Linked DNA regions of Homo sapiens. The protein of the gene in region 2 interacts with the protein of the main gene of each other region in a biochemical or structural test. Each region holds a gene or a part of one and is shown on either strand. Other genes may lie near its edges. The genes, in order: DLG1 and TMEM178A.

Region 1 (16,318 bases), on a different chromosome or scaffold from region 2:
CATTTTGGGAGGCCGAGGTGGGTGGATCACGAGGTCAGGAGATCGAGACCATCCTGGCTTACACAGTGAAACCCCGTCTTTACTAAAAATACAATACAAAAAATAAAAAATTAGCCGGACGTGGTGGTGGGCACCTTTGGTCCCAGCTACTCAGGAGGCTGAGGCAGGAGAATGGCGTGAACCTGGCAGGCGGAGCTTGCAGTGAGCGGAGATCTCGCCACTGCACTCCAGCCTGGGTGACAGAGTGAGACTCTGCCTCAAAAAAAAAAAAAAAAAAAAAGAGAAGAAAGCTAACTCTATCAAAGTTCAATTGTACGTAAGAATAGACACATTCAAAACAGGCAAGGCAGAATAGGTCAAAAATGTCTCTGAACACAGCAAACCCATCCCCAATCTAGACAGAAATATAAATGTAGATTCTGTTATTTCACTAACGATTTAATTTTCTTAAGTTACAGCCATCACACAAAGAAAAGTCTGCAGTCTATCTATCTGCCTATCTATACATATATGTATATATATATCTCTATACTGTTGCGAAAAAACATACTTTTTTTGCAACAGTAACTGCACCAAATTACTAGGCTCAATGTTGATTTAGAAAACAAATAACTAAAAAATGCTTTTTGCTGTTTTTCCAGAGGAATCCAATTTGATCATCCATTCGGACCTTAAACCTCAGAAATTCAAATGTGTAAAAAATGTCCATCAATGTAAACAAAAATGGCAAAATGTGAATTTCTGGAGCTGGGTAACAGTTAAAAGGCAGTTCATTACACTGTGCTATGTATCCTTATGTTTTTAAAAGTCTATTAAAATGTTACATTTTTCAAAATTGTTCAGGTGCATCAAGTGGTCTTTACAAAAATCTTTCATTCTAAAACCGTAGAGAGCATCCATTTATCAATAATGTACCTGACAGGACACACTGACTTGAAAGTAGTCTTCAAATCACACCAACAATTATTCTATCAACAGATAGATGTAAGGCCATATCTGACTGGAAGTTACTGAAGAAATAAATGTAATATAATTAAGTATATGTCTTCTTATGTTAAAATGTTATATAGTTGATAACTAAAACAAAAAAAAAAAACTTCATTCTTAGAATTGGAAGAGACAAACTTTCTAGTTCGGTGGTTTGCAAACTTTTTGAGGTACCTGGACAAAAGAGCCAGACAAGTCACCTTGTTTTATACATAGGAGATTATACACAAAATATGAGATGATGCTTTTAAAAATGATTTATCTACTTAAAAAAGGCTTTAAACCCATTCTGTCATTTCAACAGCTACATTCTACAGCTAATATGGTGGCATAGAAAAGATTAAATGACTTGGGATATATCATTCAATTAGTGGCAAAAGAACTCAGGACTCTTATTTTTCCAGTTCTTTCAAACAATGCACCACTTCAAATTAAGTTACAATTAAGAATAAAACTTTCCATTTTCTTGCCTGTAAAATACGGTTACTAGACAAGATCATCTCTAAGATTATTTTCCAGGTCTAAAATTCTGACTCCATGAATGCCAAGCTCAAACAGAAATCTACATTAAGGGAATGAATGTTCTTCAACACAGCAGAACCCTTCACACGCTTTCAATGACTTCAGAGACATGCCAGTCAAATACAGAAACAAGCTCACAGTAACTCAGTCATACCTTTTAGGTCCTTAAACATCTGTGCAACATCTTTTAATAGTTAATGCTATTAAGATGTGAAACAATGTTCTCAAAAGCCACTGAAATAATCCTGAAAGTTTTTTGGTTACTAGTTATTTTAAGAAAGGACACTGGCCTATGAAAAACACACAACTCACTGAAGATGTTCAAGTTACCGAATGCCTCAGAGAATTAAGTACATCATTTTCTTAAGTTTAAAATAAATGAATTGAGAGGAGCATAAAGCCTAGCTGGCATAATAGTTACGAAGTTTTAATTCCCACCTATTAAAGCCTGAAAGAGGTTGCTCTGAAATATGTTAATAACCCGTTCTATGGAACTTCTGAGCTGTCTGTCTTCAGTTTGGCTTAGTTTTGAACGATATTCCTCCAAAAGGTGCAATGCTCTCTGGGTATCTGAGAAGAAAAAGCAGAGCCTGATTAAAACTCTCTATTTACAAAAAAAGTATCACATACTAGTGCAAATAATTCTGCATGACATCTAAATAGTTCCGCAAATCCTTCAGGTCAATTGATGTCACTATGTTCATGTACACATATTCCTTAGAATGACCAAAAAATAAAAAAAAAAATTAAAGAAATACAAGAAAAATTTAAACATATATCACATTAGAAAACGGAGGAGAGTGAGCAGTTTGGAATAAATGTGTACTGGTAGTTTGCCAAAGTAAAAGATCAAAGTATTAGCAACAGTTTCAGATTACCTGATAATGCAAAAGCAGATTATCTACAATTTGTCATCATAATCCAAATTTTTAACATTTCAAAATACAAATTCTTAGTATCCCACAGTTGCTTACAGAATAGTGCTTAGTAAGAATGATAGAGTGAAATACTAAAACACCAATTCAGGGTTATTAAGGACATCTGTTGGGGGGGGGCTAACTGCCTCTCTTAATCACTAGAGAAATGTTAAGAAAGTTTAACAAACATTTTCGTGTTTCCATCTTCTGAAATGATATGAGGCTTAGATTCCCTAAGCAATAAAGCTAGGACCGTGCTGTCTCATCAAAGTTACACAAACGATTCTAAAACGGCAATCAAAAAACTGACACACGGAAAAGCAAGTGACATCGACAACAGAGTTACGGAATAAACTCTCACCTTGCTTCCGGACCGGCATTTTTCTCCAGAATCAGGAAGAGGGCACACACCTTTAAAACACACAACGGAAAGGAAAAAGGATAGAATCATGTTAAACTAGCATTTTCCCCTATCGAAATAGAAAACCCTCGCAGCCTATTTGAAAACCCCACGTTCCAAAGTTTTACCAAGTCAAAGAAAGAGTCTCAAAACGCAGCAGTTGTCTGTCAACGTGGAAAGCTTTTCCTTGGAGTGGGTACCCCTCCAAATTAAGAACAGACAGAAGTCGGCTTCCAAACTCTCCTCGAAAGCGTCCCCTCCCCAAAGAGCCTAGACCTGAGGCCGCCTCTTCCCCCGCACAAGTATCCACACTCCCCACCTGCTACTGGGTACGGGCGGGTGAAGCGCTCCGACCCTTGGCCCCTGAGCCAGCAGCGGCCGCAGAGCGCTGAGAGGGGACCAGCGGGACTGGCCGCCCGCCCTGCTCGGGCCCCCTCCTCTCGCTTGCCTTTCTCCTTGCTCGCTGCCTCCGGGCTGCTCCAGCGGGGGCCGGACAGGGCAGCGGCCGCTCTCCGCGACGCCCTCGCGCCCCGCATGCACACCTCCGCGGGCCCCCACACCTGCGGCGCCGCCACAAAGTTCCGGTGAGCGGCGTGCGCTCGGAACTGGGGTGCGCCCCGGCCAGACTCGGAGCAGCTCCCCAGCCCGGCCCCGCTCCACGTACCCCCGCCCCGCCCGGGGCCCGCGGAGCCGAGCGGAGGGGGCGAAGGGACGGGGGAGGAGCTCCCCTGGGCCGCCGCACCCCCGCGGCCTCGTCCTCCTTCTCGGCCGCGCCGCCTCCTCGCTCGCCGCGGCCCCCCGGCCCGCTCGCCCAGTTGCTGCCGCACGCCCCACCCCCGGAACCTCGCCTCCTTCCGCGCCCCCAACCGCTCTCCCCCGAAACTTTCCGCCAAGATGGCGGCCCCCGAGCTGGCCTGCCGCGCTCCCACGTGACCGCTTTCCCGGCGCTCTCAGCCAATGGGAAGTGAGGAGGCGGCTCGCGCCGAGCCCCGGGCTCCCCGCGCTGCTACCTTCGGGTTGGAAGGGGGAGGCGGGTCGGGGGAGGGCAGGGGAACGGAAGGGGTACCCGGGGAGCATCCTAAGGGAACCTCTTCGCTTAAAAGGGCGGCCGCTGAAGTGGCTCTGAGAACAAAGGAGTTAACACTCGGACTCCACAGGTGGCCCGGGGTGGCCCTGGAGGAGCCCGCCTTTACCTTGCCCTAGCCCACCGGCGCGTCCCGCAGTTCCGAACTAAACGCGCCAGGCCGGGAAGGCTCGGGCTGTCTGAAGAGAGGCGTGACCTCGCCTACACCAGATCCAAGGCGCACATACCGAGACACCCCTCAACCTCACTCAGCAGTGCCGTTTCCAACTCCGCGGCAGAGACAGCGCCTGGCGACCCCGGGGGTAGATCCCCACCGGGGAAAAGCCGCCTTAAGGAGGAGCCAACTGCACCTCCCAGGGGGCGGGGAGGGCGGGGCCTGGGAGAGGGAGAGGGAGGAGTTCGGGGAGGGGTGCCAACTCTGCATTGCCTTCCACTCCAGGCTGATTGTTAAGTTACTCTTCGTCCCTTAGTAATAGGCTTGGGGGGAGGGGTTTCATTACAGAAGGACATATGAAATAGAGACACTGGTTAACTTGGCAAGAGTTTGAGGGTTATAGTACAAGATTTTTAAGCCTAACTGATTAATTCCGAGTATGGTATACTTAAGGGTGGGCAGAGAAGGTTTGTTCATTCATTCGCTCATTCATTCATTCATTCATTTCCCTCAAGCCTGCGTCCCCGCCCGGTCAGCATCGCAGGTGTTACCCAAACTCTGACGGTCCCTTTAAGAACTCACCCGGAGTCGCGCCCTCCGAAGCTGAGCCGCCCTCGGCCAGCGCTGCAGGTTTGTTTCGTGCGCACCTCCGGGCGGAATTACCGGCCGGCTGGGACCCCGCTCCCGGTCTGAGCCACCCAGGTTATAGAAGGGGAATCTCGGGAAGCTTTCCAAGTCACTGCCCACGTCTTCGAACTTCCTCGGGGTGACGAGGACCTCCCTATTAGGAGGTCCAGAGAGAATTTGCCCAAAGTTACCCCGAGTGAGTGACAGAACTGGAAACCCGGAGATCCTGTCTTTCAAAACCGGAAGGCTCTTCCCAGTAAACCTGACGGCCTCTGACTGAGGCCGTATCCATTGGCTACCAAAGGGAAGGCCGAGGAACCTCGTATTGTAACCTTAACAGCTACTCAGAGGTATACTGACCACTGGTTTTACTTTTGGATTGCACCTTAGAATCCTAACTTACTGTAAGGACCCACCGACTTTAGAACCTATCTAGGACAAGGAACCGAGGTCCGGAAAAAGGGAAGCAACTTGTCCAAGGACATAGACGCTAATCAGTAACAGAGCAGCCGAGAACTCAGGTCTCCTAGCTCTAGTCCAGGGCTCTTTCTCTTGTGATTTTGGACAACTTGACAGAGAGGTATGTTGGTATGTTGGCAGCAGACCTCTGTGCTTTCCCGGATCAAGCATCCTGGGATCTTGAACAACAGTTAAAGCAACATTGCATAGAGAAAATGGGATAGAAGGGTCAAACGGTGCTGAAGGCAGAGGTGTCCTAACAGCCGGGAACTTAACAGAGGGACGGAATTTATTTAGTAGTGAAAGTGGCTCATGACAGGCATCATACTCTCAAGACTTCGCTGATGGACTGTGAATGGGATGGTTGCAGTAAGAAACCATTCTAACAATGGAATCTCTTCAGAATTCAGAAGAAACAGGGAGGGAAATTTGCCCTCTCCCTTGATAACATTTATTGTTCATATATGTTCACTTGCTAGGAAACGGGGATAGAAATAAATAAGATCCGAGTCCTGCTCTCAAGGATACACAGCCTTGTAGCAAGTACACAAAGGCCAATGCACCTTTTCCCAGGGGACACTGAGGAGTCAAAAACAAAATTTGTGTGAGTTCTCAATGTCATCCTAGCCTTCCCCTAAAAGCAAAAAGGAGGAAGGGGAGGAAAGAGGACGTGTCCTTTTTTCTTGTCATTCTGTGTGACAGCCCTATTTGGTTGTCAGCGGTGTACAAAAGCAGCAGTGAACCCAGCACTTGTTCTACCCTTAGCCTAAGGTGCCGGCAGCAAGTGCCTAGCAAATGAACATATATGAACAATGAATAAAGGCTCTTTACTCTTCATTCCTCCTTTCTACCCATCTTTATTAGTTACTTATTGCTGGATAAAAAAAAAGTTCCTCAAAGCTTAAGGGTTTAAAACTTATTAGCTTAGTAAGTTAAACAGCGATAAATATTATCTCAGTTTCTGTGTGTCAGGAATTCAGGAGCGGCATAGTTGGGTGGTTTTGGCTCAGGGCATTATGATGTTGCAGTCAAGAAGCCTGCCAGGGCTGCAGTCATCTGAAGGCTTCAGGGGGACTACGGGAGGCTCTTTCAGCATGGATCATTCACATAGCTAGTAAGTTGATGCTGGCTATTGGGCGGAGGCTTCAATTTCTCACCATGAAGACCTTTCTATAGGGCTGCTTGAGTGTCTTCATGACGTAGCGGCTGACGTCCAACAGAGCAAGTGATTCAAGATGGCGAGACAGAAGAAGCCACAATGCCTTTCATCACTTAGTCTCAAAAGTGACACTCTGTCATAGTCTGTTTGGGCTGCTATAACAAAATACCTTAGACTGGGTGATTTATAAACAACAGGAATGTATTACAGCTCTAGAGACTAAGTAGTCCAAGATCAAAACACCATCAGATGTGATCTAACAGTCATGAGAATAAAAATTAAAAAAAAAAAAATGGCCAGGCGCGGTGGCTCATGCCTGTAATATCCAGCACTTTGGGAGGCCAAGGCAGGTGGATCACGAGGTCAGGAGTTCAAGACCAGCCTGGCCAAGATTGTGAAACCCCGTCTCTACTAAAAATATAAAAATTAGCCAGGCATGGTAGCAGGCACCTGTAATCAACTATTCAGGAGGCTGAGACAGAGAATTGCTTGAATCCGGGAGGCGGAGGTTGCAGTGAGCCGAGATCGCGCCACTGCACTCCAGCCTGGGCGACAGAGCAAGACTCTGTCTTAAAAAAAAAAAAAAAAAAAAAAAAAAAAAAAAAAAAAAAAACACCAAGAGATTCAGTGTCTGGTAATAGCCCCATTCCTCATGAATGGAGCCTTCTTGCTACATCTTCCCATGGTGCAAGGGACTAACAAGCTCTATCTGGCATCTTTTATAAAGGCTCTAATCCCATTTAGAAGAGCTCCACTTTCAAGACCTAATCACCTCCCAAAAGCCTCATCTCTTAATATGATCACTTTGAAGGTGAAGATTTCAACGTATTAATTTAAGAAGGACACAAACATTCAGACCATAGCATACTCCATAATATCCGATCAGTTACTTAGATCAGCCTCAAGGATATGAATACCAGAAAGTAAGACTCACTGGAGGCCATCTTCTTGGAGCTGGCTACCACATCATCACAACATACAAAGCAATGACATCTGGATTTTTCTTTTCTTTTTTTTTTTTTTTAGACCGAGTCTTGCTCTGTTGCCAGGCTGGAGTGCAGTGGTACGATCTCGGCTCACTGCAACCTCTGCCTCCCGGGTTCAAGCTATTCTCCTGCCTCAGCCTCCTGGGTTGTTGGGACTACAGGCATGTGCCACCACGCCCAGCTAATTTTTTGTATTTTAGTAGTGACGGGGTTTCACCATGTTGGCCAGGATGGTCTCGATCTCCTGACCTCGTGATCCACCCGCCTCAGCCTCCCAAAGTGCTGGGATTACAGGTGTGAGCCACTGCACCCAGCCCTGACATCTGGATTTTTCTAAGCAACTTTTATTTCCTCAAAGTTTTCCTTACTTTGTGCAGTGAGCAGCTGCCATTGAATAGGACACAATATTGGATCTAATTTTCCAACTTCCTCATTAAATATATATATATATACACACACACTATATCTATCTATCTATCTATCATCTATCTATCTATCTATCTATCTATCTATCTATCTATCTATCTATATCTGTCCTATCTGTCTGTCTATCGATAGTTAGATAGACGAATAGAAGAAGTTACTTCAACAAAATACTAGCAGGTAAAGCTGTTCACTTTCCAGCTCCAAGTTAACTTGCCTTTTGAAGAGCTTAAAAGGCTTCGGAGTCAAAGACCATGGGGAAAGGCTCAGATTTCCCATTCTTTTATTGAAATGTCAGAGAGTCAATGTCAAAGATACTGTCTCTAAGTTCCAACCCTTCCCTTCCCAACCATCCTGCCCAAGCCACCTTTGCAGCTTCACATCTCTGTCTTTGTCTTCTCCTCCATCTAGGCCCCAGCTTATAAATCTATGAAGGTGTCCAGGTCCTGCCAGACTCCGCTGCATCTTTTGCTTTCACTCCAGCAGGGTAGCAGCATGCTGCCTGTGCCAAGGCAATCACTAAAAGGAAAGGATTTAATGCTGTCAAAAAAGCTTATGCCAGCTTAGGCTGCAGGAAGAGGAACAGTGTCAAGTATGTTGAAAGTGGACATATTGGTCAGACCTCCATGAGAGCCTAGGGGGCATTGCTTAGCAGCACGCTTTTAAAGGAATCTGAACAAACCAGCATGTGGAAAGAAGAGAGTAACCACAGCAATCAGGAAACAACTGTACAATCTAGGGCCATTTCATTGGAAAAACAGAAGTCTCCAGGGAGCTGCAGTCATCAAACAGGCTTATTCTGTGTACCCAGTGGGCAAGTACAGTCAATGGATGAAAATTCAACCAATGGACAAACACAGGAAGTTTTTCCTTAACATGAGTTGTCAGAAACTGTCCAAAATTCCAAAGAGCTGCCTCAAGGTAGTGGAAATTTTTTTTTTTTTTTAATCAGGAAGGTGCTGAATGAAGCCAGCAAGGATTCTGTGTCAGAGGGTGGTAGATACCCAGGACATAAGGTTGAACCACGTGACCTCTGAGACCACAGTTCTAAGCTGTTGAAACCTCAGTCCCTGCTGAATACTGAAATGGTATTAGCACCCTTTAGTCTACATCAAGAATTCGTTCTACCCAGTTTTGGTGGTACCAAGACTGATCTCTTTCTCATAGATAATTCTTAACAGAATAAAAGCTACAGGTTGAAACCAATTCCCTTTAAAATGTGGACAGTTGACCATCTCCATGATAGGTAGTTAGGCACTGAATTAATGCTTTTTAATGGAAGAGCCACCCTAAGATTCCTGGAGTGTGGTATAATGGAGTACTAAATCAGCATAGGACTAATAACTGCCTCCCGTGTAAACTGGTCTATCCGGAGAGTGGTATAGCCTCTCATACAGTGTTCAAAGGCAGATTTAACTCACTGCAGGTCCACAGCAACCGATAAGATAAACTCGTTGGTTATGGTCTCCCACTTTGCAAAGGAGAGCACAGAGGAAGAGGAAACTGAGATAACTTGGTTTAGGACCCCACAGCTGGCTGGAGCTGGGCTGAACATTAGTTCATTGTTTCTTCGATTAATCTATGCTGCTTTTTCTCTACTTGGCTCCTTTTCTAAATTAAACAAAACAAAACAAAAAACACTGGGCACAGAGTGGTGTATATGTGTGTGAGAGAGAGACAGAGATAGAGAAAGACTAAGCGAAAGAGAAAAGAGAGAGGCTGAGTGAGATTCAGATAAAATAAGGCACAAGTCATGGGCTAGTCTGTTGTACAGTGTACTTGTCATATATTTGAATGCCTTTAACAATGGAGACAGTTTTGATGGAAATAGGGCCTTGAAGAAATGCATATCCGCACCCTGGTGGTATGTTATAACTAAACGGGTTGGTTTTTTGTTTCGGAGTTTTTTGGGTTTCTTTTTAATGCAAAGGTATATATTTAAAATACCCTGTAGCTTCCTTCTCTCCTTCATTTCATTTCCTTAAGTATGAGAGAGGTTTTCTGGATGACGGGACATCCAAACTGGAAGTGCCCTCAGATCCCATCAACTCCCATCCCCATGTTTGAGAAGCACGTAAAGTAAGCTCCAGAAGAGCTCCCAGACAACGTCGGCACACAATTATCAGAGGACTTTTCCCTGATGGCAGAAAGCTACTGACATTTCCAGAACCATCCATCTTTCTTTTAGAGAGAAGGGGCTGGGGGTAAGGAGAAATTAGTAATCTTTTCTAGAGATACGTTTCTAAGTTTAACCAAATTTGCTTTTCTGCTTTTGAAGAACTTGTGGTATTGACAGAACCGTAGGATCCCATATGGAAATCCTCAGGATTATACTAAAATCTCCTTACATGAAACAACCTCTTCACCCCACCCCCTGCCAAGAGAATGACCATTGTCTGTTCACAGAAGGCTTTGGCCAGGGCCCTTCAGTCAGATTATCCTTATGTAGGTAGAGAAGATAAACTTGGAAACTTAATTGGAATTTGAAGAAATGCTATTAGAATTTTAGGAAGTCATTTGTATTCCATTTCTGAGATATGACCTGAATAGAATTCTGGTAAGTGGAGAAGCCAGAAGATTCTTCATAATTATATGTGGACTGTGTCCAGTGACCAATCTCATTTAGGATGGAAAACTGCCACAACCTTCCAAAACAAAGACCTGTGTGCCAGTCTTTCATTTTTGGGAAGTGACACTCACTAGGGCTGTCATTTTCCTATTCCTCATGTTGTATAACCCTAAATTCCTTTATTATTTTCTTCTATTTTACACTCACAAGAACGGTAACGATAATGAATCATTTAAATCTTGCTTTCTATTTAAATTTTCTTTAGATTAAATTAATTTCTTCCCAAGACAATTTTATCAACTGAGATTAAATATTTGTGATTAAAGCATCTTCTGCCTTTTATAAATAAATTGGGCGGCAGTTGAAGAAACTTTTCCAAATATGCTTTTTAAAAATCCTGCAAAATTTTCCCAAGTTGGATATCATTTCAACTTGCAAATTACCACATGAATAAACAAAGCCAAGCTCGAAGGGAGTAGGAGACAATGAGTCAAAAATTTAAAAGGGATGGGCCTTTACCAATTACTAATGAAGATGAACAAAGCAATTTAAGAATAAGAGAGAAGTAAATATTTAATAAGAAATGCTACCATAATAATTTGGAGAAGCTTGGGTTCAAAAGAGCAGAATAAAGCTGTATCTCTATTCTTTTTTTCTCTTGGAAAAAGACTCCAAAAATATTAGAACAAAGAGAAACTTGTTCCTCCATCCTTAATAAAAAGAAGAGTGGCTAGGCGCGGTGGCTCACACCTGTAATCCCAACACTTTGGGAGCCCAAGGCAGGTGGATTGCTTGAGGTCAGGAGTTTGAGACCAGCCTTACCAACATGGTGAAACCCATCTCTATTAAAACTACAAAAATTAGCCAGGCATGGTGGTGCCCGTCTGTAATCCCAGCTACTCAGGAGGCTGAGGCAGGAGAATCGCATGAACCCGGGAGGCGGAGGTTGCAGTCAGCTGAGATTGTGCCACTGCACTCCAGCCTGGGTGACAGAGCAAGACTCCATCTCAAAAAAAAAAAAAAAAAAAAAAAAGGAATTTAGATGCCCAGGCTCCCACATATTCAGACCGGTGACCATCTTCCCTCACTCCTCCAAAAGGCAAGAATTTGATTTATTGGAGAATAAGAGAAGTTTTAGATTTGGAACTACTAGACTCAGAGGAAGATGGTGGTGCATTATAGTACAGGAAACTAAGGGAAAATCTGTGTATTGAACAGAGATAACTCCCTCACACCCACCTCCTTCTTCCTGCTAGCCATAGCTGGAGTACCCTTCAGAGAGAAAAATGGAATTGCCTCAGAAAGATCAGTAGATACTCATAGTTGGAAGGCTTACAACGAAAGCCTAAGCCATCAGAAAAATGCAAATAAAAACCACAGTGAGGTAGACTTCACACCCACAAGGATGGCTCTGATCAAAAAGACACAGCTGTTACCATCATAACAAGTGCTGCAAAGGATGTGGAGAAATCAGAACCCCCATACACTGCTGCTGGGACTGTAAAATGGTGCATCCACTTTGGAAAACAGTCTGGGAGTTTTTTGAACACTTGGACATGTAATTTCCATAGGATGTGACAATTCCACTCCTAGGTATACACCAAAGACAACTGAAAACACGTGTCTATACACAAATATTCATTACAACATTATTCGTAATAGCTAGAAAGTGGAAACAACGCAAATACCCATGAATTGGTAAATGGAAAAATAAAATTGGTACGCCCATGTAACATAATATTATTCAGCAAAATAAAGAAGTGAAGTACTGATACATGCTATGACATGAGTGAACCTTGAAAACATTATGCTGAGTAAAAGAAGCAAGTTACAAAAGACCACATACTGCAAATTCCATTTAGATGACATATCCAGAAAAGGCAAATCTGTAGAGAGAAAAAGTAGATTAGTTGTTGCCTAGGGTTGAGGAGCATGGGATGGAAGGGGTTGGAAGGTGAGGGCTAAGGAATGAGGTTTTTTTATTTTAATAAAAATGTTCTAAAATTAACAGTGGTTTTGGACTCACAGTTCTGTGAATATACTAACAGCCATTGAACTGTGCAGTTTAAATGGGTGAATTGTATGGTGTGTGAGTTATATCTCAATAAAGCTGCTTAAAAAAAATGTCAAGCTGGTCATTTTATTGCCCTTCAAGAATGCAGACCAGGCCAGGCACGGCCTGTAATCCCAGCACTTTTGGGAGGCTGAGGTGGGCGGATCACCTGAGATCAGGAGTTCGAGACCAGCCTGGCCTATATGGTGCAACCCTATCTCCACTAAAAATACAAAAATGAGCAGGGCGTGGTGGTGGGTGCCTGTAGTCCCAGCTACTCAGGAAGCTGAGGCAGGAGAATCACTTAAACCCAGGAGGCGGAGGTTGCAGTGAGCTGAGATCGAGCCACTCCACTCCAGCCTGGGCAACAGAGTGAGAATCTGTCAGAAAAAAAGAATGCAGACCAATCAATGAGCCTCTCAAATATCTCAAATATACACAGAGCCTCCAATCAGCTCAGCTTTCAACAGGAGGAGCCAACCAAGGGTCACCACACATTATGAGAAGGCTTTCAACCTGAGGCTGGACATGGCGGCTCACGCCTGTAATCCCAGCACTTTGGGAGACTGAAGTGGGTGGATCACTTGAGGTCAGGAGTTCAAGACCAGCCTGGTCAACATGATAAAACCCCATCTCTACTAAAAATACAAAAATTAGCCAGGTCTGGAGGCATGAGCCACTGCACCCAGCCTCACTAGGAAGATTTAAATGTGGTTCTGCCTATAGACAATTTTAAAATTACTTCTCAGAACCTTTCCAAATTTAATATGTATGTGAGTCCCTAAAATTCCTGGAAACAAATAGAAGATCCCCTTAGAGTGAAAAAGTCAAGTTTCTTCCTCCTCCTAATGACAAAACTCCATGTAAAATCACTATTTAGGCTAGGCACAGTGGCTCACGCCTGTAATCCCAGCACTTTGGGAGGCTGAGGCAGGTGGATCACCTGAGGTCAAGTGTTCAAGACCAGCGTGGTCAACATCGTGAAACCCTGTCTCTACTAAAAATACAAAAATGAACCGGGCATGGTGGCAGGTACCTGCAATCCCAGCTACTCAGGAGGCTGAGGCATGAGAATTGCTTGAACCCGGCAGGCAGAGGTTGCAGTGAGCTATTGCGCCACTGTACTCCAGCCTGGGCGACATAGCGAGACTCCTTCTCAAAACAAACAAACAAAAACGAATGGATTTAAACAAGTTGGCAAGTCACTTTGCGTGCCACTACATTTTGAAATGTCAAGGGGGATTGGGATGAGAAAGTAATTCAAGAAATTGCTATATATGATGAAAGACTGAATACACACCAGACCATATATGACAACAGAACTCTGTGATCCACAACCTCTGCAGCAAGCAACCCAGGAAATCAGACAACAACCACTGCAGTAATTGGCCTAAAATAATCAGAACTTGGTCAATGACTGCCAGCTTCCCTATTTTTTTTTTTTTTTTTTTGAGACGGAGTCTCACTCTGTCGCCCAGGCTGGAGTGCAGTGGCGCGATCTCGGATCACTGCAGGCTCCGCCTCCCGGGTTCACACCATTCTCCTGCCTCAGCCTCCCGAGGAGCTGGGACTACAGGCACCCGCCACCACGCCCGGCTATTTTTTTTGTATTTTTTAGTAGAGACGGGGTTTCACCATGTTAGCCAGGATGGTCTCGATCTCCTGACCTCGTGATCCGCCTGCCTCGGCCTCCCAAAGTGCTGGGATTACAGGCGTAAGCCACCACGCCCGGCCCAGCTTCACTAATTTTTACCATCTTTCAACTCAAGGCCAATCAGAGAAAGGCAAGTATTCTCCCTAAATCAATCATACAAAATGCCTTGCTTCTAGTTATCTTGCCTCCAGCTTTTCCATACCTGAGGATCTCCTTTTCTCTTCTTTTAATTATAAAGCTTTCCTACTCCCTTGCCTGCCTTTGAGCCTCTGCCAAATGCAAGTGACGGTGCTCACTCCCTCGCTATAGCAAGCTCTGTATAAATAGCCTCTGTTCTCATTCAGGTGGTCATCACTTACTTCCACAGACAGGGAAAGTTCCTAAAAACAGACAGAAAAATTGTTTAGTCTGCTACTTTAATAAAAGCCTTATTCATCAGGTCATTCAGTAAACTAATCTGTATGATGCAACTACTATGAGCCAGGAACTAAAACAAATTCTATTTCTCTAGGAAAATTTGTCTGAGAAGGAAATTGCAAAGCTGAAGCCTTGGGACTTGAAAATTCAAATCTTCCGTCTTTGTTTATGGTCTGTAGCAGGCAAACAACTTCGAACTTCTCAAGGTTGCTTGGCTAAACACGAACGAGTGGATGAAGAGAACACCTCAGCAATAAATATAATGCCTGGAAAAGAATTTTACTAAGAACAATGTTTTTTATGCCACTTTTTAATTTTTTTAAAAATTTCTCATTACCTCTGAAGATTTGTGACACTATTGTTTGAGCCATTATTTTTTAAATGATACATATAACTGCTTGTCTAGGATGGTTTCTCTTTCTTTCTCTTTCTCTCAATTATCTTCAGTTTTCTAATCTAGACCACAAAGTTCTCCATTAATAAAGTTGGCAAACAAAGTGTCTGAAAACATTTTGTTACAGGGAATGATATTCTGCTAAGTTTTACTGAAGATGGAATTTTCATTAGTACTGCTAATGAACCATTCTTATTCCTTTTGGGAACTATGATTTATTAAAAGAATTGTACGTTTTTTAAAAACACCAAAAGAATTACACTCATTCATTTTCAATATGACTAGGGTATTTGCAATAGAAAACTTAGTGAGTATTCCCTAAAGTCACGGTGGCTTTTAAACACTGCATAATTCTGGGTATTAACATCAGGAAAGCATTGCACTGTTCCTCATTAGAAGGATAATGCCATTATAATAGCTTTACTCTGAGGCATAAAGCGGTTAAATGAAGCACCAGAAAAGGAAAAGCAAAAGTTTGTTTGGTGAATCATTCTTTTCTATGGTTTGGTGACCCTAAATTGAGCCAGAAAAGAATGCAGCTAGTGGCTTAATTTGAAGAATTTCCCAAGGAAATGATGCAATACTGTACAATTCTTATTGGTCTCTAACCTCTGGGATCTCTGTTCATGAAGCTGCCTATTAACACAGCTTTGCAAGTTAATTGTGAACAAATCAGGAGAGAATAAAAACTCAAACATAAATCTCTGATCTAACCACTTCATTTAGGAAGGGATTTGGAAGATCTTCTCGGACCAGTGTTTTTGATTCTCTTCTTTGCATTGTGACCTTATACTGGAAACTCAGGTGTGACTGCTATTATTCTGGTCCCAAGTGCCAGGAAGTTCAGATCAGGTTGAGGGCAAGCTCAGGCCAGGGTGACTCTGAGGTCAGGCTATTCACATGTCTTTTCTTAGGCTAGGATCGCTTGAGGAACACAACCACGTTGCTGGGGTTAATAGATCTATTCTCCAAAGCCAAAGTATTTGGCATGGTCAGCATAATTGTACTGTGTGTTGCAATTGGGCTCTGAGCACAGAGTCTTGCTGAGTGCCTTATGAATTTGGTCATGGAGAGAAGGCTGGTGCAGGAGTGAGCAAGGGAAACTCCTATTCAGAGAAAGTTTTTACTCCAGAAATCACCATTCCTTAGGAGAAGATTGCTTTAAAAAATTTTTTTTTAAATTTTTTATTTTTTGAGTTGGAGTCTCACTCTGTCGCCCAGGCTGGAGTGCTATGGAGGGATCTTGGCTCACTGCAACCTCCGCCTCCTGGGTTCAAGCGATTCTCCTGCCTCAGCCTCTCCAGTAGCTGGGATTACAGGCACCCGCCACCACACCCGGCTAATTTTTTGCCATGTTGGCCAGGCTGGTCTCGGACTCCTGACCTCAGGAGATTTACCCGCCTCAGCCTCTCCAGTAGCTGGGATTACAGGCACCCGCCACCACACCCGGCTAATTTTTTGCCATGTTGGCCAGGCTGGTCTCGGACTCCTGACCTCAGGAGATTCACCCGCC
Region 2 (16,289 bases):
GATTTATAGATGCCATTTTTCTATTTGCTTTCTATATGCCATATGCATTTTTGTTCCTCTATTTCTTCATTAATGTTTTCTTTTGTGTTAAATACATATTTTCTAATATGGCTTTTTAATTCTTTTTGTTGTTATTGTTTCATTTACTACATATTTTTTTTTTGTTATTTTCTTAGTGGTTGCCCTGTGGATTACAAGTAACATCTTAACAATCTAGTTTGGATTAATACCAATTGAATTCAATAGTATATAAAAACCTTGCTTCTATATTGTTTCATCCCCACTCTCCTCCTCCATACTATTATTGTCATACAAATTACATGTTTATACACTGTATGCTGATCAACAGAGATTTATAATTGTTGCTTTATGACTTTTAAATCAGATAGGAGAAAAAAAGAGTTGCAAACAAAAATACATTTATACTGTCTTTTACAGTGACCTATGTTGTAACCTTTACATGTGCTTTTTATTTTTTAAATATGGGTTCAGTTATTATCCTTCATTTCACCCTGAAGGACTCCCTTTAGTATTTATTTTTAGGCCAGGTCTGCTAGTGATAGATTCTCTCAGTTTTTGTTTAGCTGGGAATATTTTATTTTTTTCCTAATTTCTGAAGGATAACTTTGATGCATATAGGATTCTTGGTTGACAGTCTTCTTATTTCTGTGTTTTGAATGTGTCATCCTATTCCGTTCTGGCCTCCATGATTTCTGATGAGAAATCAGCTGGTAATCTTTCAAAGTTTTTTTTGTGTATATGATAATTTGCTTTTTTCTTGCTGCTTTCAGGATTCTCTGTCTTTGGCTTTCAACAGTTTGATTATGATATATCTGGGTGTGGGTCTCTGAGTTTATCTTATTTGTAGTTCCTTGAACTTCTTAGGAATGCAAGTTCATATTTTTAATCAAATTTGGGAAGTTTTGGCAGTTATTTCTTCAAATACTCTTTTTTGATCCTCCTTCTCTCCTCCTTTCTGCAGCTCTCATTATGCTTTTGATGGTGCCTCACAGGTCTCTGAGGCCCTGACCATTTTTTAAATCATCCTTTGTTCTTTATTTTTCTCAGACTGGATGATTTCAATGGACCTATCTTCAAGTTTGCTGCTTTTTTCTACCTCCTCAAAACTTCTTTTAAGCCTCTTTGGTGCATTTTTCTTTTCAGTTATTATACTTTTCAACTCCAGAATTTCTATTTTTTTCTTTACAAGAATATTTCTGTCATGTTGCTAATATTCTCTATTTAGTGAAATATCACTCTCATCCTTTCCTTTAGTTATTTGGATAGGTTTTCTTTACTTCTTTGAACATATTTAAAATAGCTGATTTAAAATCTTTGTAAGGTAAGTTCAATATTTGGGATCCCTCAGTGACAGCTTCTATTGACTGCTTTTTTTTTTCTTTTACTTTGAATGTCTCGTACTTTTTTGGTTGAAAACTGGGCATTTGAAATAACATACTATGGCAGCTCTGAAATTAGATTCTTGTCCCTTTCTAGGGTTGATTATTGTTTTTATTGTTGTTGCTGTTGTTCCTTTAGTGACTTTCCTGAACGAATCCTATGAAGTCTATATTCTTTGTCATAGGAGGCCCCTTAAGTCTCTGCTTGATTAGCTTAGTGGTAAACTAATTATTGTACAGAAATGTTCTTAGCCTGCTAAAACCAATAAACCTTCCAGTCTTTGCCAGTGGGGTTTGTTGTGTGCATGTTGGGTATGCCTTCAACTCTGCCTTAGCTTTCACTTCCTGCTTACAGAGCCTCAGGGTCAGTCTGATGAGTACCAAATGGAATGATAGTTTTGAAGAATACAAATGTAAGCTACTACTACATTTGTGGTCCTTTATCTGTCATTGTTCTCATACTATATTGTTTTCCCTTTGGAAGCACAGGCATTTCCTGACTTATAAACAGCTAACTTATATGTAAACAGCTACCTTTAATGCCTTAGACCTCACAACCACTGCCATGGGGCTCATGTTGAAAAAACAAATTAAAAAAAAAAAAAGAACTTCGAATTTTGAGAAAATGTGTGGTTTCATCAAAAAATAAAAAATAAAAAAAAAAGCTTCCAAAAATCAGAGATAGTTTGGGTAGTTTTTCTCAAAGGGAGATTCAGAGACTACCTGCATCAGAATTACTTGGGATGCTTGTTAAAATTCAGCTTCCTGGCTCCATCTCAAAACTTTTGATTCAGTATATCTGGGGTAGAGTTCAGGAGTTTACATTTTTAACGAGCCACCTAGGTGATTCTGATGTACACTAATATCTGAGAAACTCCTTAGGGAAGATGATCCTGTAGGTACATTCACAGGAGGGACTGGGGCTCATGATGCAAATTATGCTCAAATATTAATCTCTTCCCTTCACTATATAATCTTTTTAAAATTTCACCTTTATATGCACTCAGATTCCACCAATTAGAGATTTATTTGCATCTATGAAGATTTTTTTAAATGGCTGGCAGTGTTAAAGGACTAACATTCGCTCATGCCTTTAAAAAAATTAGTTTAATCAGATTGCATTTATCCAAACAACTGGCCAAGATTATTTAAAATGAGAGGAGAACATTTTATAAGTTTTTTTAAATTTTAAGACAGAGTAGATACTTTTCATGAAATTCAGAAGCCTCTAGGAGAAGAGAATAATGGACCCATGTTAATTTATGCAGTAAAACATGGGTGTGTGAGGTTGGTGTGAGGAGGTGGAGAGTGTACTAGATGAATCAATGTGTACACCTGCCCATATCAAAATATTGTGCCTAGGGCTGGCCATACAACCAGATAGGGGAGGAAAATTATTTTCTTTCTTGTTCCTACTTCTAGTATTACCCTTTTTTCTCGAGATCTAGAATTCAGGTCAGTATAACTGTATTAAGGAATGATATCAGCTGCACTAGAGTTAAATAGGTTTTCGAGGTTTGTCTGGAGATATAATCACCACCTAAACCATGTGGAAGGTTATCTTTATGGAAAAATGTCTTCTGGTTTCCAAATAACACACTTCCTAATGAACTTCATGAGGCTACCCTTGAGAGTTTGAGACTGGATCAGATCCAGATGTGTGATTTATCTGTGCTAATTTAAAATTCTAAGCTGATTTTCCCAACCATCTGTGTACTTTTAGGCCATTGCTCCTTAAGGAGTTTTGTGTTTAGGTAAAACAAGCTCCGTATGGGAAAACAATTAGGGGAGTATAGATCCTTATACAATTTAATACATTAAAAAATGAAACCTGATTTTAAACATTATTTTATGTTTTAGGTTTTTATTGCTCTGAATCAAGAGATTCTTATCCCATCTCCCATTCAACCCAGGTTAGGTTACGGTATTCTGCCTCAGGTCTCAGAATTCTGTTACAAATAAGCAGACTCGTAAATCGCGTTTCTTATTTCCTTCAAGGTATTGCGCAGCGATGCACGGCCATCAAGTACCACTTTTCTCAGCCCATCCGCTTGCGAAACATTCCTTTTAATTTAACCAAGACCATACAGCAAGATGAGTGGCACCTGCTTCGTAAGTATTTCCAGGAGAGGTTCAGAGAGGAAATGGTGTCATTCTGAACAAAATTCCCACCACCCCTCTCACATCTGGACAGAAGGATGTTGTTCTTATCCTCTGTGAGCCTCTGGGCCCAATCAGATGTGGTCAGAGACTCAGAGGATCATTTCCCTATGCTGTGGACACAGTTTGCTTAAAAATAAAATGTGTGGAAACCTGGTATAAGGTCTTGTGAGATAGTCTGCCCTGGTGGCATCTGTACACAGCTGCCTACTGAATCTTTTGTTTGCCGAGTTGTTGGGTGTAAGGACCTGCTGTACCCCTTGTCTTGTAAACCAAGGAGATTATACCTTAGGGGCTCTTATTTTTGTTTTGTATATACAATATTTATTTTAGCTACTGTGTTCATCTCCGACCTTTGTATTTCTGCTAAAATACCTTTATGAGTGTATGTCATAATTTTCTCAGAGGGTGTCTACATCTCAATGAAAGGAACTATTCTTTTTCACTGTCAGGAAAATGTGAAACTCTAGAAAGCATCATGCAGTGTGAAACTAAAGAGGGCTGATATTTACCTAAAAACTGTTGATTTAAGCTGCCTGATGATAGATAGCTCCCCGAAACGAAAAACTACTGTGAATTTTTTTGGTCTTTGCCCCCATCAGAGGTTGACATTGTCATTTTCCAATGAAATAAGTAACAAGGACTTCAGGATCTTGTTTGGTGGCCAAAGCCACTGTAGAAAACTAATCAGAGTCTCTCATTCTGTAAGTAAATCTCTCTGCGGATTAAAAGGCTCTGTTCTGAATCTCAAACACATAAATGGAAGCTCTTATGATATTGCCAGAGCAGTGGTCTAATATACATATTATGGCAGGCAACTTTAAGACTTAATCATCTTTCCAGAGAGCCATGTAGTTACTGGCTCAGGTCAGGGGAGAAAAGATCATCATAGGAGCCTGAAAAAGAACCTTAGCTCTTTAATAGTTTGTACCTTGTGATTGCCCAGCAAGGCAGTATTTGAAGATTCTTCTTTTAATCCTTTTTGGAGTTCTCATGGAAAGATGCTTTTAGCAGTCTCATGCATGTCTATTTCTAAGAAAGTCACACTTGGTGATCTGTAGCACATTTACTATATAAGCTTAACATGACTGGTACTAATGCAAATCCCATGTGGATTATATCTGAACCTTGTGCCTTTTCAGAGTCACAGAAAATAGACTATCACTCAAACCATAGGAAATTTGGGAGGCTGTAAGATAATGGTGACTGAACCATACTACATTTCCCCTGCTCAGATGTGGCTGTCTCAAAAACTACTTATACCCTTAACATTAAACTCAGCGTCTTTAAATTATCACTGCTCCTGGCCCCTTATTCATTGGTGTCCACATTTCTTCTTCTAGGCAGAAATACTCTCTTTTAATTTGGATGCTCTGAGTGGGAAATGAGAAATCCCTCTTTAAAAAAGGGATGGTCTCTCTGTGGCTAAGGTGCTAAGAGCAAGACTGGAAGCTACTGTAATCCATCCTCCATGAAGCCGCCCCTAAGCTGCCCAGGAGCCACACAAACACACAATAAAGTGATGGCTGCATGGGCACTTTCACTTTAGCAGAGCAGCCCACACTTCGAACAGTGTGATCTGCACCTTGTCTTGGCCCCATGTGTACACAGGTGTGGATGATCCACGTGCATTTGCCCAGACCTGTTACCTGGCCTTGGGGGCAGCAGATGTATGCTTGGGATGTGTTGTTTTAAGAAGGGTGATTGAAATTTAGCGAACAATTTTTAAAGTTAGTTTTGTTAAAAAAAATCCTTTGAGATGGAGCTGCAAGGTAAATAGAAAAGATTCAAAAGCATTTTTTAAAAAAAGAAGGAAGAAAATAGAAAAAGTAAAATAGCTGGAAGGTAGGCAAGGTGAGTGCTGGTTTAGCAGTTGGAGGCAACTTGTGTCCAGGTACACGTAGTCAGCCTACCTCTTGGTTTTGTCAGGCATGTGGGGAAAGAGCTGGATTTCTGGCTCAGTGATCACAGTTGTGTTTTTGCAATAGACCAAACTAGACAGTTGGGCCACTGTATAGTGGAGATTATGTAGTGGAGACTCATCCTATTGGACTAGTACTTCCTTCACCTGGGTAAATGGATGCCCAGGTTGTGGGATCTATGCTTTAGGGGAGAAGGCATTTCTGAGCAGATGTTTCAGAGGAAAGGGTGTTTATGAGCACATGTATCCTGTGTGCACTTTACACCACTGTTCCACTCACCACAATTGCCTTCGCTTTCTCAAATTGTTTTTGAAAATAGGCAGGAGTAGATGTAAATGAAGAAGTAAATAATTGGCATCTGTGGTGATCAGATAAAACCCTATTTCACAATAGCTTTTTTAGGCTCTTTCTCCAAAGCTAGATTAAGTACAGCCACTACCAGGGTAGTAACCTACATTTCTTTTTTTTCCCCTTTTAAAATTTCAATAGTTTTTGGGGTACAGGTGGTTTTTGGTTAACCTACATTTCTATTGTTCTGTTAAGGCTAACAGATATTTCTCAGACCCACCTCACTCTTTGTTTAAGTCATTTGACATCTGTTACTCAGGTCTATCCTGGGCTTGTCCTCTAGTCTATTCTCCACTTAGTGTGGACTTCTCCACGGACTCAGAGACGGTATAGTCTGACCCTCCATTGGTTACACCCCATCAGTCCTCTTATGGAATACCTGGGAAGAGTATTCCCTATGCCTCCTTGTCCTGTGGGCTCTAAGCCTGTCCATGTAACTTACTAATTTTCACAATGTATACAAAGCCCTAATTCTCTAATTCTTAATGACTTTCCTGAATTCTGATTGTGAATGTCTGTGTCTGTTTTGAGATTAGATTTAAGAAGAATCACTGCTGGCTTCCTCGGCATGGCCGTAGCCGTCCTTCTCTGCGGCTGCATTGTGGCCACAGTCAGTTTCTTCTGGGAGGAGAGCTTGACCCAGCACGTGGCTGGACTCCTGTTCCTCATGACAGGTAGGCTGCATGCCTCAGGCCGTCTGTCCCAGCCAAGGTGAAGGCTGCTCTGCATGCGGCTAGCTAGTGTCGCTTTGTTATCTCCCTGTTAATTTTGTTTTCACTGTTAGAAAAGCAACCAGAAGGTCATTTTGGCTTTGCTGGAAAATACAGAATTTAAGGAAAACAACAGTGTGAGAAATGCATCCTCTATATCCCCATTGTGGCCTGTTAGTAGGTTGGATGGAAGTGTCTTGGGTTTAATCTCTATATGAGCCCAGTCTGTTTTTTTGCTGTACTTTCTTTTTTCTTTTTTGTTTTTTTGAGATGGAGTCTCACTCTGTCACCCAGGCTGGAGTGTAGTGGTGCGATCTTGCCCCACTGCAACCTCTGTCTCCTGGGTTCAAGTGATTCTCCTGCCTCAGCCTCCTGAGTAGCTGGGACTACAGGCATGTGCCACCACACCTGGCTAATTTTTGTATTTTTAGTAGGGTTTCACCATGTTGGCCAGGCTGGTCTCGAACTCCTGACCTCAGGTGATCTGCCTGCCTCAGCCTCCCAAAGTGCTGGGATTACAGGCAAGAGCCACCACACCCCACCTTCTGTTCCTTCTTTCATACTGTGCCCCAAACCCTGGCCTGGACTCTTGGCAAACATGGACCATTGCTTATGAGGTGCCCTCAAAGACAGAGGGGGATAGATCAGCACAACCCATGCCCCGCTGGATGTCAATTCAAAGCATGCTTTAGTGATGGTGTCATTTTTACATACACAACACTCATTCATTTTAGTCCACAGATATCTTTTGAGGACTTACTATGTACGAGGCACTGCTGTGAGTGCTAAAGACACACAATGAATAAGGCAGGCAAAATTCTTGTTCATTTTTATTGTGGAGAGACATAAACAATGATTTGTGGTAGTGATAAAAGCTGTGAAGAAAAGAAACAGGGTGAAACAGGGACTCAGGGAAGATCTTGCTGAGGTGGCGATTTCGCAGCTAATTCGTGAGAAGCAGCCGGTGGTAGGAAGAGCGTAGCAGACTGGGGAAACCGCCAGTGCCAAACCTGAGAGAAGCGGCCAGTGGGGCTGGAGGGAGTGAGGGACAGGATAGTATCACATGAGGTGGGGGAAGTGGGCAGTGGCCAAAGCGTCAGGGTTTTGTTGGTCATGGTGGAGAGCTTGGATTTGAAGCTAAGGGTGACAAACGCCACTAGAAGGTTTGAAGCAAAGGAGTGACTTGATTTTTTTTTTTTTTTTTTTTTTTTTTTGAGACGGAGTTTCGCTCTGTCGCCCAGGCTGGAGTGCAGTGGCGCGATCTCGACTCACTGCAAGCTCCGCCTCCCGGGTTCACGCCATTCTCCTGCCTCAGCCTCCCGTGTAGCTGGGACTACAGGCGCGCGCCACCATGCCCGGCTAATTTTTGTATTTTTAGTAGAGACGGGGTTTCACCGTGTTAGCCAGGATGGTCTCGATCTCCTGACCTCGTGATCCGCCCGCCTCGGCCTCCCAAAGTGCTGGGATTACAGGCGTGAGCCACCGCGCCCGGCCGATTTTTAAAGAAGGGATTGGAAAGATGGGGGTGTGGAGACAGGGCTAGGATTTTTTTGACTAACAGCTAAAGGGTAGTTTTGTCTAAAAATGTGCCAGGTGCTGAGTTGATGGCTAACACTGACCGAAGGTAGCTTCAGGGAAGAAATCTTTCCTTTCTTCTCCTCCTTCACAGAAAACTCGTGTATTAATGATTAGTGAATGCCACATTAACTGGGCATTAACAGTTTCACACAGTATACTCAGCAACAGAACTAATATTCCCCGAGATAGATAGCCATTTTAAATAGGCTTATTTCCACTTGCTTGGAATTCTGTTATTCAAGTGACTATGCCTAGATTTTCTTGCACTTCTCACTGTAATGGGTCACTTAATTAAGCCTGCGTTAACAGGAGGCAGCCACACCCCACCGGGGCTGACACTGTTTGCTGACTGTCTGTCTCTGAGCGTTGACGGGTAGGGGGTACTTTGCCCTCTGGCATGTTCAACCACCCTGCAGCCTTAAGGAACCCACATCACAGGCAGGGATCCTTCCTTCTAACTCCCACTCACCCCTATCCCACTCCACGAAATGGTGCTGCAATTGGCAGTGATCTGGAATGTGGGGCATCATCACCAGCATCCTGGAACATTCAGAAGTCACATGGATGCTGCCTAGTTCTCAGCAGAAAACCAATTTAGGTTTTCTAGATTTTGGTGAATACACAGTGGCCACCAGGACTGTAGCACAGGGAGGCTAAAATGTTAGTTTCTGAGGTTTTAGAGGAGGATTTGGACCCTCAAGACCAGCCACTGGGTTCCTGCCCAAGGGATGCATTTAAAATCCAAATTATAGACTAAAGCAGACGCGGGCAGCAAAGAACCAGAGAGGACTGCACTGCACAGAGGATTCCTTTACACCTCTGCTGGGGCTTAATGGTTATTTAAAAATCTCCCCCGTTTTCTTCTCTCCCTTTATTTAAGCCCCCATTTCTCTGACTCTTGTCTCCATAAATATCAAAGAGGTACAGATGTGTTGCCTCCCAACACATGGGAAAGGCCCCATAACACTCCCCTTGTCAGGAAAATGGGGGATGCTCTGGAGTGGACAAAAGCCTCAGTAGGAGGAGTTTTTAAAGGATACTTTAAATATATGTACTGCCTGAATAGTTTAGTATGCTCTTAGCAAATGAAACAATTGTTAGAACTAAAATAAATTACAAGACCATGAAAGCCTACTGAGTGCTCCTTGGGAGACTGAGGGGCCAGTCTGGTTTTAAATGAAAGGAAGTTGAAGGTTCAATGGCAGGTGGGCACAGAGGAGAGGCAGTAGTTTCCTGGGCCAGCTCCACCTCTCCCTGTTCTCAGCCCTTATTTTGGATCCATGTGTGGATTGTACCTCTGGACCAGAGGAGCTCAGAGGTCCTCAGGATCGAGCACGGGAAGCTCCTGTGTAATTGTTAGGCAACATCAAAATATGCAAAGCAATAGCCACAACAGAAACCACCACCACCACCAACAAAAACCCAAACAATAAACTTGAAGTTTGATGACCAGTTCTGAAGGACTAACAGATACAACCTAACATTGTTAACATTGTTCTGTTGTTTTGTTTTGGTTGCCCAAACAACGTTATTGAAATTAAGGGGGAATCCACTTACAGACCTCATCACCTGAAAACAAAACAACCTTTTTTCAATATTTCCTTTATTTTGGACCAAATCTTGCCATGTATTTGCTTCACTGTAAAAAAACAAGAAAGGAAAAGGAAGGAGAAGAAAGGGGAGGGGATGGAAGAGGGGAGAGGAGGAGCATGGAGTGGATATGCTATGCTGGATTCACCTGTTCTGTTGCTGTGGGATTTAGGGGCGTTTGTTTTGCTTTTGTTACTACAAATAATGCCTTGAAATTTCCTTTGCAAACACTGAGACAACCATGTCAATCTATTGCTTGAGATAAATTAGCTGTAGAACGTTCACATGCAGTAGGAGATGAGAGCAAAAAAAGGGTTAAAAGAATCGATTTTAATTAAGCAGAATGTCTTTAGCCACTCAAGTCAGCATCCTTCCCACAGATTTTTGATGCTAAACTTAGCCCCTTCTAATGCTCTGCCATCTTCATTCTGTGCCTGAACTTATTAGCTAAACCTTCAAATGAAGAACATCAACCATGTGACAGGTTGGCTGGTTAAAATGGAAACTCTGAAACGATATTTCTCCTTCTGCCTTATTGATTGCACACAGACAGGTCTTGATTACCACATGTTACACAGCAGCCCTGCTGACTGTCGATGCACATCTGGAGCCAGGTCTCACCCCTCTTCCTCTTCCCTAGGGCCATGCAAGGGCCCTCCCAGAGAGCCAGGGGCAGCCTGCACATCTCCCACCGGCCTTGAATTTAGACTTTGGATGTCACACCCTCTGAGGTTACACACACACAGGCACAGAAGCATACACAGGTGACTGAGGGAATAAGACTCTTATCTTCCAGCTTTAAGCTTCTGCCCATTACTAGACTATACTGCTTTCAGTGTACTGTGAATGAATATTTCCACCTACATTATTAAGTGATGCATTCTATTAGATGGGTATAATATATACTTATTATAATTTAAGTTATAAATCTTTTAAAAGGTTATTCAGTGCAAACATTTTAAAACACTTTTTAAGGTCTCTGTTGTAGGATTTTTAGTATTTTTTAATTCACCAGGAGTCTTAAAAATTGGATAAAGCTTGGGCCTCCCTTGGTGGGGGTCTCACTGCTCACGAAATTCATTCACCTTCACAGGCTGTGCCTTGAGTGGCCAACTGGAAGATCACACACAGCATGAGACAGTCCCTTCCTGACAGCAGAGACAGAGAAGACAGAGTCCAGGCAGCCCTAGCAGAGCTCCAGGGACAGTTAACACCCACCCACACTGGTTATTCATTCTTTTGTTTTAATGAATCCAAATTTTTTTTAAAAAAAGACTCAACCATGGTAGGTGTATTGAATTATCTAGATTATCCATTGATTATGACATGAAACTACAGGTCCATGATACTTTTTCTATAACCTTGGGGGCCAGGTGTGTTTTGTAATTCAGGATCTAAAACTTTTTATTTTAGAAGAGTAACACGGTGCATATATCCTGTGTTATTTAACACCCTCTGCAAGGTCTGGGGTGGCATCTTGAAATCAAATACATTAATATTCCTGTAGCTAAACATACGAATATTCACACTAAATGGGATCAATAAGTACTAGAATAGCCTGTGTCAGACCAGGCCAGGATTTGCCACTACAGAGATTGCTTCAATCTTTCAGAAAATGATTGGATGCTTTTGGGATTTAGGAATTGCATTTTGTGTGTGTGTGTGTGTGTGTGTGTGTGTGTGTGTGTAAGAGTTTCTTTCTCTCTATTAGTTCTGCCAGTCAGTTAGGACAATATAGGAATGGCTTTTTGAGTAATCTGTGTGCAAACTAGCATGAGGCATTTGAAGGAAGACCAAAGAGATCAGAACGATGGGCAGGCCATCTTTTGAAGGAGCAGGGGAAAAAAATCAATGTTTATGCCTTTGGGTGTTGTAGTTACATTATTTATCAAGCAGGCTAAACAGGGTGAAGCAACTTCCACTCCTTTCAGTCTTTTAAGCACATTAAAAAACGGTGGTCAAAAGAGTGGGCCCCGTTACCCTAATTACATCTTACCAGCCGGCATCATGAAGATTTTAGGGTAGGAAATTAGGTTGATGATTGCAAGGATGATAGCATAAATTTACTTCTGTCCTGATGTGAAAATATCCCTTCTAGCCCTATAATTCTGTGATATCGTGGTATCTTCTAATTAGGAATATTGGCAGAAAACCTTTTAATATTTTATAAGAAAAGTAGTTGCATGCAGGGCTTGTCAGGAAACCAGTAATTTATTCACTTTTTTGAAGATGCTGCCAGCAGTAGTAAGGACCGAGCTCAGGACTCAGGAACCTCTCTCTCTCTCTCTCTCTCTGGGGGACACTAGCTGGCTGAAGAGTATCAGCTAGGCAGGGGAGAAGTGGAAAGGAAGGGAAAGCCTCAGAGAAGAATGGAGGAGAGGCCACCTTTCTCCCCATGGATCTTCAGGAAGGACCATTAGATTTTGAACTTTCTGAATGCAGAGGTGATACCTTATTAATCCTTCCATACTCCTTTCGCATACCTTGCATTAATTAGATTGCTGCCAATGAAAATGCAGCATTATCAGAAATAACTTGCTACATAGGTAATCCCTACTTGGGGTAATTTGTGATGAACCGACTCTTAAGTTGGTAGAACTCAATGTATTGCAGAATTCAGTTTCGTTCAGGTTTTCTTCACTCCATGTGCTCAGCTCTGTTGGACTCCATGCAGAACTTACGGGAAGTCTAAGAGATCCCTATGACCTTTTCCTGAGATGCACGGAGGAGAGTAGAGTGGAGAGAATGCTTGAAGTTCCTGACCACATCAATGTTGAACTGAGTCCAATTGTGACCAAGAAGAGCTCATGAAACTAAACTATCTCTAATATACCAGAACTAGGCTTGGGACGTGGTAGATACTTGATAAATAATTGCTGAATAACTTATTGAGTAACACTTAGAATAGCACAATCTTGCTAAAACCTATAAAAAAGCTAAAAATATATTTCATGCATGAGTACAAACACACACATACTCACATGTGTGTGGAATGTTATGGGCTGAGTTGTGTCCCCTCAAATACACTTGTTGATGTCTTTGTCCCCTACCTCAGAACGTGACAGTATTTGGAAATAGGGTCTTTAAGTTAAAATGAGGTGATATGGATGGGCCCTAACTAAATATGACTGGTGTCCTTATAAGGAGATTTGGTCATGGTGACAGAGGAGAGACTATGTGAAGACACAGGGAGAAGATGGCCATTGACAAGCCAAGGAGAGAGTCCTCAGTTTAAAAAGCCAACCCCGCTGACACCTTGATCTTAGACTGTAGCCTCTACAATTGTGAGAAAACAAATTTCTGTTGTTTAAGCCACCCAGTCCGTGGTACTTTGTTTGGCAGCTCTGGCAAACTCACACATATGAGTACTATAAGACATGTATGTGGAACCTGAAATAGAATTCCACACTCTCAACATTGACCTAAAACTATTAATCCAGCTATAGTAAGAATGCTTTCATCATTTCAAACAACTCTTTTTCTTGATGCCTTTGAATTTAGGATTTTTTGTTTTGTTTTTTAAAATATCTTGAATGGGTTAGGCTTCTTTTACAGAAGCTTGTTGGAAAAGTTGGAAACAATGCTTCTCTCCTCTTAGTACATTTCCTTGTAATCATCACACATTCCTGCCCATCTCACAAATCATTGTGGTGGCAGCTATGCATGTGCAAACATTCTTAGAAATGCGAGGGTCTGAAAATGAAGAGCTCCTAGATATGGTTTTCTTGTCATTCTTTCCTGCCCTGCTTTCCTCTTACTTACTAAGAACAACTTCGAGAGCACTTTGAAAGGAGAAGAGATGTTACAGAAGGGCAAGCTATAGGGGCATTTGTGGGAAGGGGGATGGAGAGAGGGGATGGATTTTTGGGCTGATAGGCCTCCTCTCCACCACGCTCAGCTGAATGAGTAAAGGCAACAAGAAATAAAACAAGTCTGCATCAAAGTTTGATGCGTGCCCTGTTCCAAAAAAAAAACTTAACTGGCATAGAGATAACACTTAAATTAATACAAATAAATAAAGTAAGACAAAGGGACAATCAGGTTTCTGAGGCAAGATGGATCCAAGAGTGAGATTAGAAGCCAAAAGCATGCCATGAAATCCCATACTTTTGCTCATGGTGGGCTACAGATTTAGCTTTAGGGAGCTTCAGTGCTCTGGCAACTTGGATAAAGAAAAATTCTGTTAATGACATCATTCACAGTGTCCATGAGGTAAGCACAAATCAATTCCCCAGGAAAAGCACAAACATCCATGACACTGAGAGCAGAGAGAAATCATTCTGGTTAAATCCCCAGATTAGATTGTTTCTTGTAATTCTTTTCTATTCAGTATGAACCGGTGGTTTAATGATAGAATTCATGTCATCAAAAGCAATTTTATGGGGTTGGCAGGGGAGAGGAGCTAATGAAAGAAATGTTAAGTGTAAAATCAGAGGGAGTATATACAGAAAGATAGATACATAGGACATTCCATTTTCATTTAATTGCATAAGCTGAGTACTAGATTCACTAGGAAGTTTTAATAAATATTCTTGTTTCATGTTTCATTTTGGAATAACAGAATCACAGAAATTTGACACTCTTAGGGACTTCAGTAATCAAGTTTCCCACTCTTTTTTTCCCTAGATGAAGAAACCAAGGCTCAGAGAGGTTAGGTAATTTCAAGTTTGCACAGTGTTTAGTAGAGCTGGAAACTAGAATACTTATTTCTCACATCCCAACCCAATGCACTTGGACATGAAAGGATGCTTAAAAGTCTAGGTTTGAACTCAAGCTTTCATAGGTCATTAAAACAATGTTACTTGTAAAAATGCTTGCTTTTAGGCATTCAGCTATGTGCAAACAGCTAAATGCAGAATAAAGTTGTTTTTCCTGTGAAGAGGTCATTGTTCTATTATTCTATTTTACTTGTTGATGCTCCAAAGATTATTTTTTCTAACTGCCTATTGTTCTATTACCAGCATTTATTAAAAGGGCTTTGTTATATATAAAAACTGCCTTTGTTTTGGTGCCAGTGAAAACATTTGTGTAGATCTAAGAACATTTGCTTTTCACAAGGTTTGAGAAAAGTGGAGTATTCTTTTTTGAATGGCCCATTACTTTATGAGAGAATTATTTCCATCTTGATTTTTCTCTTTGAGAACTCAAAGTGATATGTTTGCTGTAATAAATTGGAGCAAGAAGTCAGAAGAAAAGATTTTATCCTTTTTAGTAAAACAGAATCACTTTAGAGTTTAAATGCAGAATTAAGCAAAGAGTAGGAAATATCAAATTATCTCAGATCCAGTGTCCTTTTAATTTAGAACATTTATTGTCTAAGTGCACATTTGGAAGCGGATTCAGGCAACGTGCTCTTACATGATTTGAATGGAGGCAGAATTCTAACATTTTAAAGATGGCATTAAGGTGGTCTTTATTTCCTCCAAATTGCTGCCTGCCCTGAATTTGTTTTTCTGCTAGCATTTCTAATCTCCAAAGCTATAGGTTAAAAAAGGGTGGTGGGTAGAGGGCGGGGAGCTTTGAATGGGTTGGAGAGGTAATCTGCTACTTTTAGCTCTCTCTTTTCAGTTTCAAAATCTGTGTCTCTGTTTCCAGTGGAGATGCTACGTGTATCCCTAAGGATGCCAAAGGAATTTTCCAGTCAATAAATGTTGTCTCTGTTGTATACAGGGATAAACCAGACTATGAAGAAGAGATGTGTAGGATTCAGAACAGAACTGGACATTCTGATACTTGATTGGGTGCCAGTTTCTGTTTTTATTACTCACCACACTCTGATCCTCTGCCTATCCAAAAGGAGCATCTTGAGGGTCCATTGCGGTGGAATAGAAGCACCTATATCCACATGAATTGAGTACTAAAAATCCTGTGTTTGGGGCTTATGAAGTATTTTTAAAATCAGTCCTGATTTTAGTGTTGCAGAAGGAAAATTACACACACATGGATTGGTCTAAAAAGCAAAGTTTTGGGTCTGTCCATGTTCCTTATGTCACTCCAATTGCCTCCATTTTGAATGGTTGAAATGGATGATCTCCTTGCTCAGCTATTTTACATCATATGGTATATGTAAGACTGTGCCTTAACAAAAAAGATTTAGCTACTTGTATGACTTCATCTAAAATATTATTTAAGGCAACATGATAAATATTTATGATAATGTTAATTGAAAAAGAAAGCAGATGTTGTATAACGATTACAACAGAATAACTGTATGAAATTAGGTGGAGAGCGAAGGAAAATGAAAACTATTTTGTGCTTGATTTGAGTGATTATAGAAGTTTTTCTCTTAAAAATAGAACTTTTATTGTTTTTAAGAATAAAAAAAGAATTCCAATATATATAACCATTTGAATTAGATAATTCTGAATAATTCAGGTTATCAGAATTTTCCTGTCTCTTTCACTCCTGCATCTCCATTCCCTAGTGTAGGGTCTGGCACACAGAAGTTTTGCCAATGTTTGTTATATGAATTAATTCAAGTAAAATAATTATGGATCATTTGTGAATTTGGAGTGACTGCCTCAGTGGTTGATCTGATTTTCATAAAGGCCTGTCTGGCATTTGTCTTGTAACAGGCAAAC

What was found.
Region 1: the proteins of TMEM178A (region 2) and DLG1 interact in a test that uses a peptide from one of them, tested with the Homo sapiens proteins (2 studies listed by IntAct, with this or other methods).

Annotation. Positions count from the first base shown.
Region 1 is NC_000003.12:197,294,399-197,310,716, forward strand, and holds the start of DLG1 (disks large homolog 1), read right to left. Parts: upstream 4,215-16,318; 5' UTR 4,138-4,214; exon of another isoform or gene 3,849-4,137; intron 3,738-3,848; exon of another isoform or gene 3,146-3,737; intron 3,084-3,145; exon of another isoform or gene 2,955-3,083; intron 2,838-2,954; 5' UTR 2,807-2,837; coding exon 2,788-2,806; intron 2,080-2,787; coding exon 1,948-2,079; intron 1-1,947. UniProt on the Homo sapiens protein: Essential multidomain scaffolding protein required for normal development. Recruits channels, receptors and signaling molecules to discrete plasma membrane domains in polarized cells.
Region 2 is NC_000002.12:39,700,683-39,716,971, forward strand, and holds part of TMEM178A (transmembrane protein 178A isoform 1 precursor), read left to right. Parts: intron 1-3,398; coding exon 3,399-3,512; intron 3,513-6,366; coding exon 6,367-6,504; intron 6,505-10,801; coding exon of another isoform or gene 10,802-10,860; exon of another isoform or gene 10,861-14,580; intron 14,581-16,289. UniProt on the Homo sapiens protein: Acts as a negative regulator of osteoclast differentiation in basal and inflammatory conditions by regulating TNFSF11-induced Ca (2+) fluxes, thereby controlling the induction of NFATC1.